Linked DNA regions of Homo sapiens: region 2 is linked to region 1. The links come from fine-mapping of genetic effects on plasma protein levels. A gene starts in region 1. The other region holds a variant in brackets. All regions are shown on one strand. Distances are from middle to middle.

Region 1 (5,000 bases):
ACATTCATTCAACCAATATTTATTGAGGCTCCACTACATATATAGTGAACTATAGTAAGAAGGAGGGAAACAAAAATTAAAACACTGTTCCCTTTCTCATGGAACTGTGGGTGGGAGCTGGAAAGACACTGAACAAGTAATGAGTGTGGTATGTGCTAGACTAAAGGAATGAGTCCTATGGGCACACAGGAAGGACAAATCATTGTTAACCAGGTATGGGATGAATGGGGTGGGGAGGGCAAAGAAAGAGATGAAGGCCGGGCCTAGGTTTTTAATGTAGTTGATTAGAAGGTTAAGACAGAAAGGCAGAGGAAATGTTAAGTATTGTAAGACAAGCCTGGCACATTTGGTCTCCGGTAGGTACGGAAGACTGGATTTCAGGCCTCGACGCAGGAATGGAGACGGAAGAGACTGGCAGGGGCTGTCATTTTGTCACTAGGAGAATGTGCATGGAATTCCCTGCCTTATAATTGGGGAGGGCTAAACTTAAAGGATGTTAAGTAGCAGATCTGACAGGACTGAATTTGCTATAAAGTAAACCTTATTTCACGAATTAAAAGAGGGTATGGAGAGAGGCCAAATAAAACATGAGAGATCAGTTAGAAGGTGACCTCAACAATGCAGGCAAGAAAAGAAGACCGGAGAAGGCCACAGCAATAGGACTCGAGGGGCACTGCAGCTGAATTCAGCTCAACAGACACACTGGTCACCTATAATCTGGCACTGGGAAAGAAAGAAGTGGTGGCGACAACAGCTTCTATCTAAGAATCCTAGATCCCCAAGGTTGTAGCCAGATCTAACAAATCTTAACAAATCAACAAAAATTTCTATTTTAACTTAAGAAGTTAAAATCTTTATGCTAATCGAAACTATTAACGACGCTCCCAAAAGTTTCTGCTACTTGGGTACAGTGTTTTATAGGCACTTACCTGGTTTAAACAAATACATAATCACATGGAGATTTCACTGACACAGCAAAATCTATTTTAGTTCAAAGGTAATTTAAGTGTGAACTTAATAAACTTAAATATTATATTCAATTGAGGGAATTAGATGGGAGCACGTACTTAATATCTGAGACTTAAAAAAAAAATCCACTAAAAAGCCATAGTCAACACCTTGCCCTAATGTTAAATCAAATCGTTTGGATTTACAATTCTTGTTCTATTGAGTAATTTTGACTTCTTACAAACATTTTATTATTAACATTTTCCAGAAAACTAGCTTCAACCACAAACTTCTCTTTCCACGTAGTATATCACACAAAACAAAAAAGTGTTGTAAACATTTCAGTGAGCAGAATACACTATCTAGGTTTGACAACAGCTGGCATTTTACTAGATTTAATCCTTCCAGCAAACCTATGAGGTACGTGCTACCACTATTCCTATTTTTTGACTCAGGGCATGTGGGCACAGAGATTCTGAGTAACTTTCCCAAGATCCCTGGTGATGACAGAGCCAGATTTGACCCGCAGCAGGCAGAACTCCTTCCCACTCATACTGTCATACAAAATAGCTGTTTTTTTCAGGTTTGTTGTGTGCAGTTTTAGCTGTTGATTACTTATGCTAGTAAGTTAAAATTATGTCCAATGATGCTTTTGGTTTAAAGAAAAATAGCTGTTTTCAAAAACTGCTGGTCTTTCTCCTGCCTGATGTTGACACCATGTTTTCTTTCTCTGTGTTTAGCTATCTCTGACCGCCGGAGGCTGTGTCTTCTCTGTCAAAGGCTGGAATCGACCTCCCAGGTGTGCGGGCTCTGTCCCCGACTTAGGACCGGCGTCCTACCTCCAGGCTGAAGACTGGACAAAAGCGGTGACAATCTTCCCGGTCTAACCAGGACTGCAGGAGACGGGGATTCCCGGGATGCGCGACTTTTGAGGGCAAAACTGGGAAGTCCCAATAAGGACTTCGGATCAGGTTCTGATCAGGTTCAAACCAGAGCGAGTTGGTCGCCCAGTAAATTGTACCAAATGTTCCGCGGTAATAACTAACGACAGTGCATGATATAAATAAATGCGATAGACAGTGTTTTTAAACTACTCAAGAAATCAGCTACTTGTACCCAGAAGTCCCTCCATTAAATAACATTACTCTCCTTTTCTTCTTCCACGATTCAGGACTGTCCTGAGTCTGCCGCAAGTGACCAGAGGGGACGAAAGGTCCCAGGGCTGCACGTAACGAGCGGCTGCGACTCCCCAGTCCTCAACTTTGCTCTCAAGTGCGCTCCGAGCGTCACCCGGCGCTGTCCCCGCACCATCTCGTGACCCGACACAAACCACGGTGAGCAGGGGTCCCCGCCCCAGCACCCCATCCCCCATCGTCAACGCCGACCCCAACCCCGACAGTGCGCGCGCCGCCGCACTCACTTGTAGGGCACCGGCCAGTGGCGCCGGGAGGGGATGCCCGAGACCCGGGACCAGCCCGGAACCACCGCGAGCCAAAGCAGCGCCAGGGCCCAGCACCAGGAAGCGCGTCCCCGAGCCGCGCCCGCGCCCCGCCGCATCTCGGCGCCCTGTGCCGTGTCTACCTCCTGCGCCATCAGGCTGCACCCAGTACTTCCGGAGCCTCTCGAGGCCTGCGACGCCGGTGGGAGGAGCATGCGCGGAGCCGCCAGTCCGGGACGCGGGGCGCCTTGCCCCTGCGCGTCAGCTCCAGAGCTTGGCCCCAAGCGCAGGTTCCGGCGCATGACACCTCCCCGCGCCCGGCCCGCGGCGGCTTCCACACTTTGCAGTCCAGGAAGGTGCTTTGGTCTGGCTCCCAGGAGAATTCGATCCAGACCTGGGGCGTCATCTTTTATGAATTGACCTGTCCTTGCCCAAAAGCCACCACCAAAACCAAAAATCTGTCACCGGGGCTCCTCCCAACACCGAACTTTTACCCCATCCCACAGGGCCCACGCTAGGTGTCAACAAACGTTGAGTGAACGAGAATGTGTATTTGGAGCTGAGGGTGCAGGGCTGGGGGTGCAGTGAGGAAGAAGGGACAATAGTGCGGAAATGGCTCGTCGTCACCCGACCTGGGCCAGTCATAACAGTGGTTAACACTGACAATATGTGGTCCCTGCCACTCCCCAAGTGCTTAGTGGGGAAATGACTCGTCCTCACTCGACCTGGGCCAGTGATAACAGTGGTTAACACCGACAATATGTGGTCCCTGCCACTACCCGAGTGCTGCCGAATCTACCCCCTCCCCTACCGCTCCCCTCACAGGCAGGTGTTCCTTGCTTGGATCTGTCACTTCACTGGAAAGAAGTTTCTGCATCACCTTCTCTTCTTTGACTCTTCAACTAGGTCAAGAAAACAATGGCATCAATTACCCGGCTTTTGAGGAGCCTCTTGTGGCATGCTTTGCTGTTAGGCACAAATACTGACTTAAGTCTATACGTAGTACATTCAGGGCCTTGCCATAGTCACTTGTTTTTACCAGACAGCAGTTTTGCAGGGCCTTAGACCGGGACTTTCCAATTCCTTCACTTCACCCACAACTCGTGTGAAGCATCATAATGTTTGTAAGCCTATGGGAATAAGCAAGGTGGCTTCGGTAGCCGGAGATGACCACCACAATCCATTGGAGGATATGTAGCTTGTGGGGGTGTCACTGACTTCCTTGGGCCCTCCAGGTCTCTTGATTACATATGGGACTCAGTACCCTGCCCCAAACACACACTCCTTTGCCCACTTGCTGCTCCAGGTTTGGGGGTTTTGCGGAGGTTCAGGCTGGGCTGCATTTTACCATACGTTTGTCTAAGCGTTTTGATAGCTACCTAGCTCTCCTCCGTATACTATGGCCAAATTCAAAATTACCAAGGCTAAACTGGCTTCTTCAAAGACCTGCCCAAGATAAGAGGGGGAAGCATTCTAGCCCTGAGAGCTGAAATGTAATGTCTGATTTGAAGGGCACCTGAAGGATTCCGTGGCCCCACACTTGAGCCTAGCTTAAAAAGCAATCAGCAGGAACAGCTTTAAAAAAAAAAAAAAACATTGATTAGAGCATTTACAAATCCTGGAACCATACACAGTATGATGTATGAGGGCCACAGTAGATGGCCTCAACAACCAGAGCCTCCGTGGCTGCCTGGAGAGCGGTGATGCAGGCAGCAGCTTCATGAGATATTTGCAGTTTAATCCAGTCATCTGCAAGCACAATCTGCCCATCAGATTGGACTTTCTTGGAGGCAAAGAGAAGCAACTGCAGTGGGGTGACTAAAGTCATGCCTTTAGCAGAGATGGCTCGAGTTCAAATCTTTTCACCAAATACAAAGAAGGGAGATAGGTACTTCATGTCTTGGCTACTAAAAGGACAATTAACAGTAGATGGTTCCAGGTTCCATCTACTGTTAGTAGAGGGCCACAGTAGAACCTCCCATTCAGTTCAGGACTTCCCAGAGCTACAAAAACAAATTCAGGTTGACCTTGTTCAGTGGTGGAGGCCTCTGGTCTTGCTTCTGCCATCTGTCTCTTCATTCTGTGTGCAGGGAGCTTTCATGGTAAGAAAGCACTTCCTAGTATTGGTTTTTATTTTTTATTTTTTTGGAGACGGAGTCTCCTTCTGTCACCCAGCCTGGAGTGCAGTGATGTGATTTCGGCTCACTGCAACCTCCGCCTCCCGGGTTCAAGCAATTCTCCTGCCTCAGCCTCCCTAGTGGCTGGGTACAAGTGTGTGCCAGTTGTAATTTTTTTTTTTTTTTTTGGTAGAGACGAGGTTTCACCATGTTGGCCAGGCTGGTCTCGAACTCCTGACCTCAAGTAATCCACCTGCCTCGGCCTCCAAAAGTGCTGGGATTACAGGCTGTAGTCACCATGCCTGGCCCTAGTATTGGTCTTAACTCAGCCTCCTGGTAGCTCCCATTCTTCTGGTCTGGTTTTGCCTTGGATGGGAACACTGATTAAACCCCATTCTTTTTGTCTATGACCCCACACCCCAAGCTGAAGGTGCTCATAGATTATCGCTGGTCGATACTGGTTGCTTCCCCCTTGTCCATGGCTTTTAAATCTTGAG
Region 2 (5,483 bases), 11 kb after region 1:
GTTCCCAAGCTGGTCTCGAATTCCTGGGCTCAAGCGATCCTCCTGCTTTGGCCTCCCAAAGTGCTGGAATTAAAGGCATGAGCCACAGAGCCTGGCCCTGACACAAATATTCATGTAAGAGGTTAAGAAAATCTTAAAGGTAACCAAAAATTAATGAACCCCCAAAGTGTTTCTGAAACTTGGGTATACTAACCTGTTGTTTACATGATAAACTGGGCTAAACAAATACATCAACTATACGTACATCCTATTTTCAGAGTTTCGACAATTTCACTTGCCTAAAGCATCATTTATTTTAGTTCAAAGATAATTTTATTTTCATTTTTATTTTGAGACAGGGTCTCGCTCTGTTGTCCAGGTTAGAGTGCAGTGGCATGATCATGACTCACTGCAGCCTTGACCTCTCAGGCTCAAGCGATCCTCCCACCTCACTTCCTGAGTAGCTGGGACTACAGGCCTGTGCTACCATGCCTGGCTAATTAAATAAAATGTTTTTGGTAGAGTCAGAGTCTCACTTTGTTGCCCATGCTCCTGGGCTCAAGTAATCCTCTTGCCTCAGCCTCCCACAGTGTTGGAATTATAGTCGTGAGCCACTGTGCCCGACCCAAAGATAATTTTAAAAGCATCATTTAAGTGTGAATTTAATAAAATTAAAATTTATAATATTCACTGAAGGCAGAGATTAGAGTGAGACATCTACTTAATAGGTAATACTTAAAAACAAACTGTGGAGCCATAAGGAACACCTTACCCTAATCCTAAATCAAGTGATTTGGATTTATTTTGCTTATTACATTACATTGTTTAGACAATTCTTTAATCTTGTACTTGTTTATTGAATATATTTTTTAGTTCTGTTATGATCGATTTATCAATAGCCGCAAGAAAATTGGCTTCAGAACAAAAACTCTTTTCTTTGTGTTGTTAAATAAAATGTATGAGAGGCCATGGTTTTGAACTGAGCCCCTGCATTAGGTCGCAACAGATTGAACCAAAATGGGGTCGCTCGTGCTAAGTAATCGAACTGTAATCAAACTGAAACGTAAACGGGAAAATTCCCAAAATAGACTGGCTTTTCGTAAAAACAAGAGATTCACAGCAAGCAATCAGAAAGGGCCCAGTCAGCCTAAGTCAGCATGTTAAGGAAGTCCTCTCTGCTTTAACCCTTTATAAGTAAAGTAACCTGAAGTAAACTGATGTTAACCAATTCACTTTTTGTATTCCTGTTTCCCTATTTCTGTTCAAGCTACCTTAGGAAAACCAACTGGTCTGCCAGGCTCATTGAAGCTCCCTCTATTTTGATTAGCAACTGCCTGTTTTATGAGTCACTAATAAAAGCCAATTAGACATTTTAATCAATTTTGTTGATTTTTTTTTTCTTTTTTTGAGACAGAGTCTTGCTCTGTAGGCCAGGCTGGAGTGTAGTGATGCAATCTCGGCTCACTGCAACCTCTGCCTCCCTGCCTCAGCTTCCCGAGTAGCTGGGATTACAGGCATGTGCCACCAGGCCCACATAATTTTTGTAGTTTTAGTAGAGACGGGGTTTCGCCACATTAGCCAGGCTGGTCTGAAACTCCTGGCCTCAGGTGATCTGCCTGCCTCTACCTCCCAAAGTGCTGGGATTACAGGCGTGAGCCACCGGGCCCAGTCAAATTTTTTTTTTTTTTAATCAACGTATATCAAGGAAACTAAAGGGGTACAAACCATTCAGTGAACAGAAATACACTAGTATCAAGGTTTTGACAGAGATGACATTTACTATTTTTAATCTTTCCAACAACTCTATGAAAAAGGTGCTACTTCCTACTTTCAGCCTGAGGAAACGTTGGTACAGATATTTTGAGTAATTTCTCGGGATCACATAAGGCAGTGAGGGTGGAGTCAGGTTTGATCTTGGGCACTCAGACCTACACTAAGTTATCCTGCTTTTCAAATTCACTCCTTGTCCTCCTTTTCCTCCTCATCTGCAGTGATGACGGATGCATGTGTGTTTTCCACAAGCAGTTGCTCTTTGCCCTGTCTGGTGTCACACCACGTTTACATCCTCTTTCTAAATCTAGGCATCGTTGACAGTAAATATCCTACTGGGTCAAGAGCTAGAATCACCCTCGGGGATTTACAGTACTCCATCTGTCACTTATGAGCAGCAATCTACCTCCAGGTTAAGAAAGGTAGGTTTCTTCTTGAAAGTAAATGCAGGGTTTATTCAGCACCCAGGACATAAAGGCTTAGTGAATTTTTATCAGAGGAACATGGGACTAATAATTTAAAGATCCAGTAGGGAAAGTAATGTTTGCTGGATATTGCAGATTTCATCTTTTAATAATAAAGGAATAGTTCCTCTTTTCCCGCTGGAACCATGGAGAGTGTCAAAGAGAAGAAGAAAAAGTTTCCTGCTGTACCAGAAACCCTTAAGAAAAAGCGAAGAAATTTCACAGAGCTGAAGATCAAATGCCTGAGAAAGAAGTTTGCCCAAAAGATGCTTCGAAAGGCAAGGAGGAAGCTTATCTATGAAAAAGCGAAGCACTATCACAAGGAATATAGACAGATATACGGAACTTAAATTTGAATGGCAAGGATGGCAAGCAAAGCCGGCAACTTCTATGTACCTGCAGAACCCAAATTGGCATTTGTCATCAGGATCAGAGGTATCAGTGGTGTGAGCCCAAAGGTCCGAAAGGTGTTGCAGCTTCTTCGCCTTCGTCAAATCTTCAGTGGAAACTTTGTGAAGCTTAACAAGGTTTCAATTAACATGCTGGGGATTGTAGAACCATATATTGCAGGGGGTACCCAAATCTGAAGTCAGTAAATAAACTAATCTACAAGCGGGGTTATGGCAAAATCAATAAGAAGCGAATTGCTTTGACAGATAACGCTTTGATTGCTCGAACGCTTGGTAAATATGGCATCATCTGCACGGAAGATCTGATTCATGAGATCTATACTGTTGGAAAATGCTTCGAAGAAGCAAATAACTTCCTGTGGTCCTTCAAATTATCTTCTCCATGAGGTGGAAAGAAGAAAAAGACCACCCATTTTGTAGAAGGTGGAGATGCTGGCAACAGGGAGGACCAGATCAACAGCTTATTAGAATAATGAACTAAGGTGTCTACCATGATTATTTTTCTAAGCTGGTCAGTTAATAAACAGTACCTGCTCTCAAAAAAACAAAGAATAACTTTTCTTCAAATATCTGGTCAATGAATGATA[T/C]TGTACAGAAGAAACTCAGGGAGCATCCTACCTGAAATTTTATTAACAAGTAACTTTTATTTAAAAATTATCAAATAAAATGCAAATTATCTGCATTTTTCCTATTTATTTCCTGTGATCATATAAGAAAATTAGGCAACACATATGGCGTTTTGGACTTTCTAAGAACTTGCTAAGTTTGTGAGACAAAATGTCATGAGGAGCAGCGGCATCCTAGCCAAGGCTGCCTGCTTCCACTGCCCTTAGTTACAGCCCACGCTGTATCCGGATCTCAAACTCTCCATGTTAAGTGTCCTAAGAATTTTTTTTTTGTCCTCCAGCTCCGATGAAGATGCAATGGGGTCTCTTCTTCAGTCTTCCCTGTCAAAAACATCACTTCAACTTCCAGCTTTGGAACTGAGCAGTTAAAAAAATTATTGCACACAATTAAATATTTTAAAACAATTAAAAGTATTGCATATCAATATCGACGTTCTCTTTTGAAATAAGTTGAATGGAAGTTACTTTTTAGTAGTGCGGCAAAGGATAGAATCCATTTTTCCCCTTGCTCTTTCGTTTAAAGATAATTTTCAAATAAAGTTATCTATTAATAAAAATCTAGCTTATGTCTCCCTGGCGCCCTCTCTCTTCCCTCCGAACAGAAAGGGCAGAATCTCTGCAGCCTCCGCAGGGGCCGGGATGCGCAGGTTCAGCGGACAGATCTCTCTCCCACCTGGGACCCCATCGCCAACGCGCCAGCGCTCCAGTGGGGCTATGCGCCAGAGCGGAATCCGCCGCAAGGGGGCGCGCGGGTGCAGCCGGAGGTGGGAGCGAGCGGCTCTGCACGCAGCTTCGGAGGTGCTGGGGTATGTGGGGCTGCGGGGCTAGGTCTGGGCTGCACGGCCCTGGGGGCGCCACGGGGGCGCTTTCTCTTCCCTCTGCAGCCTGCGGAGTGGCGGGGGCAACCCCTTCCTAAGCTGTTTTCCCTCTCTCGGGCTTCTAATTTTTATTTTTATTTTATTTTATTTTATTTTGTTACTTTAAGTTCCAAGATACATGTGCAGAACGTGCAGGTTTGTTACATATGTATGCATGTGCCCTGGTGGTTTGCTGCACCTATCAACCCATCATCTAGGTTTTAAGCCCCATATGCATTAGGTATTTGTCCTAATGCTCTCCGTCCCCAGGGGCTTCTAATTTTTTTTTGTTGTTGTTGTTGAGACGGAGTCTCGCTCTTGTCGCCCAGGCTGGAGTGCATTGGCACGATCTGGGCTCACTGCAACCTCCGCCTCCCGGGTTCAAGCGATTCTTCTGTCTCAGCCTCCCGAGTAGCTGGGATTACAGGCTCCTGCCACCACGCCCTGCTAATTTTTTTTTTTTTTTTTTTTTTTAAACAGGAGTTCACCATTTTGGCCAGGCTTGTCTCGAACTCCTGACCTCAAGTGATCCACCTGCCTCGGCCTCCCAAAGGGTTGGGCCGCGACTTACAGTCGTGAGTCACCGCGCCCGGCCTGGGGCTTCTCATTTTTAAAAGGTATCCAACACGCCTCCCTCCGCACACTCCGCTGGATCTCCAGCGACCCAGCCGGGCTTCAGACAAAAAACGGGCAGCAGGGATGTTCGCAGTCACAAGGACCAGACCAGCCTGCCCCTCACCTGCTACCCCTTTGCCAATAGTGTTTTGTTTTTTGGAGGGGAGGGGGAGGGAGTAAAACATATGTAACATGAACTTTACCATTTTAACCATTTTTAAGTAGTGTGTGATCGACTGGCATTAAGTGCATTCACAATGCTGTGGAGCCATCTCCACTGTCCGTCCCCAGACCATATTCATCATCCCAAACTGCAACCGCAACCGTGAAACACTAATTCCTCATTCTCCTTTCTCCCAGCTCCAGGTAGCCTCTATTACATTCTACTTTCTATCTCTAAGACTTTGTCTACTCTAGGTACTTACTACAAGTGGAATCATATAATATTTGTCTTTGTGTTACTGCCTTATTTCACTTGGCCTATGTCCTTAGGGTTCATCCATGTGGTAGCACTTGTCAAAATTTCCTTCCTTTTTAAGGAAGGAATAATATTCCCTTGTATGTAGAACACCACATTTTGTGTACCATTCATCTGTTGATGGACATTTGGGTTGTTGGCTGTAGTGAATAATGCTGCTATGAACATGGGTGTACAAATACCTGTTTGAGTCCCTACTTTTAATTCTTTTGTGTATATACCTAGAAGTGGAATCATGGTAGTTCTCTTTAACTTTGTGAGGAACCGCCACAGCTGCTGCACCT

The links. A credible set is the group of variants that fine-mapping cannot tell apart. PIP is the chance, under the fine-mapping model, that this variant and not a neighbour inherited with it causes the effect. Sun 2018 read protein levels with aptamers (SomaScan).
Region 2: its variant is the best candidate, but not a certain one, in a credible set for the plasma level of the CLN5 protein (Sun 2018, PIP 0.52).

Annotation. Positions count from the first base shown.
Region 1 is chr13:76,989,640-76,994,639 of GRCh38, reverse strand. It overlaps CLN5 (CLN5 lysosomal BMP synthase), which reads right to left and starts at 2,559. Exons shown (of 4, transcript NM_006493.4): 1 at 2,369-2,559. The coding sequence starts at 2,541. RefSeq lists an enhancer at 1,055-2,254 and silencers at 2,276-2,515, 2,976-3,045, 3,136-3,225.
Region 2 is chr13:76,978,793-76,984,275 of GRCh38, reverse strand. It overlaps the pseudogene RPL7P44. Among named protein-coding and RNA genes, the nearest start is that of CLN5, 11 kb to the left of the region's middle. The variant T/C (reference allele first, on the strand shown) is at 3,211.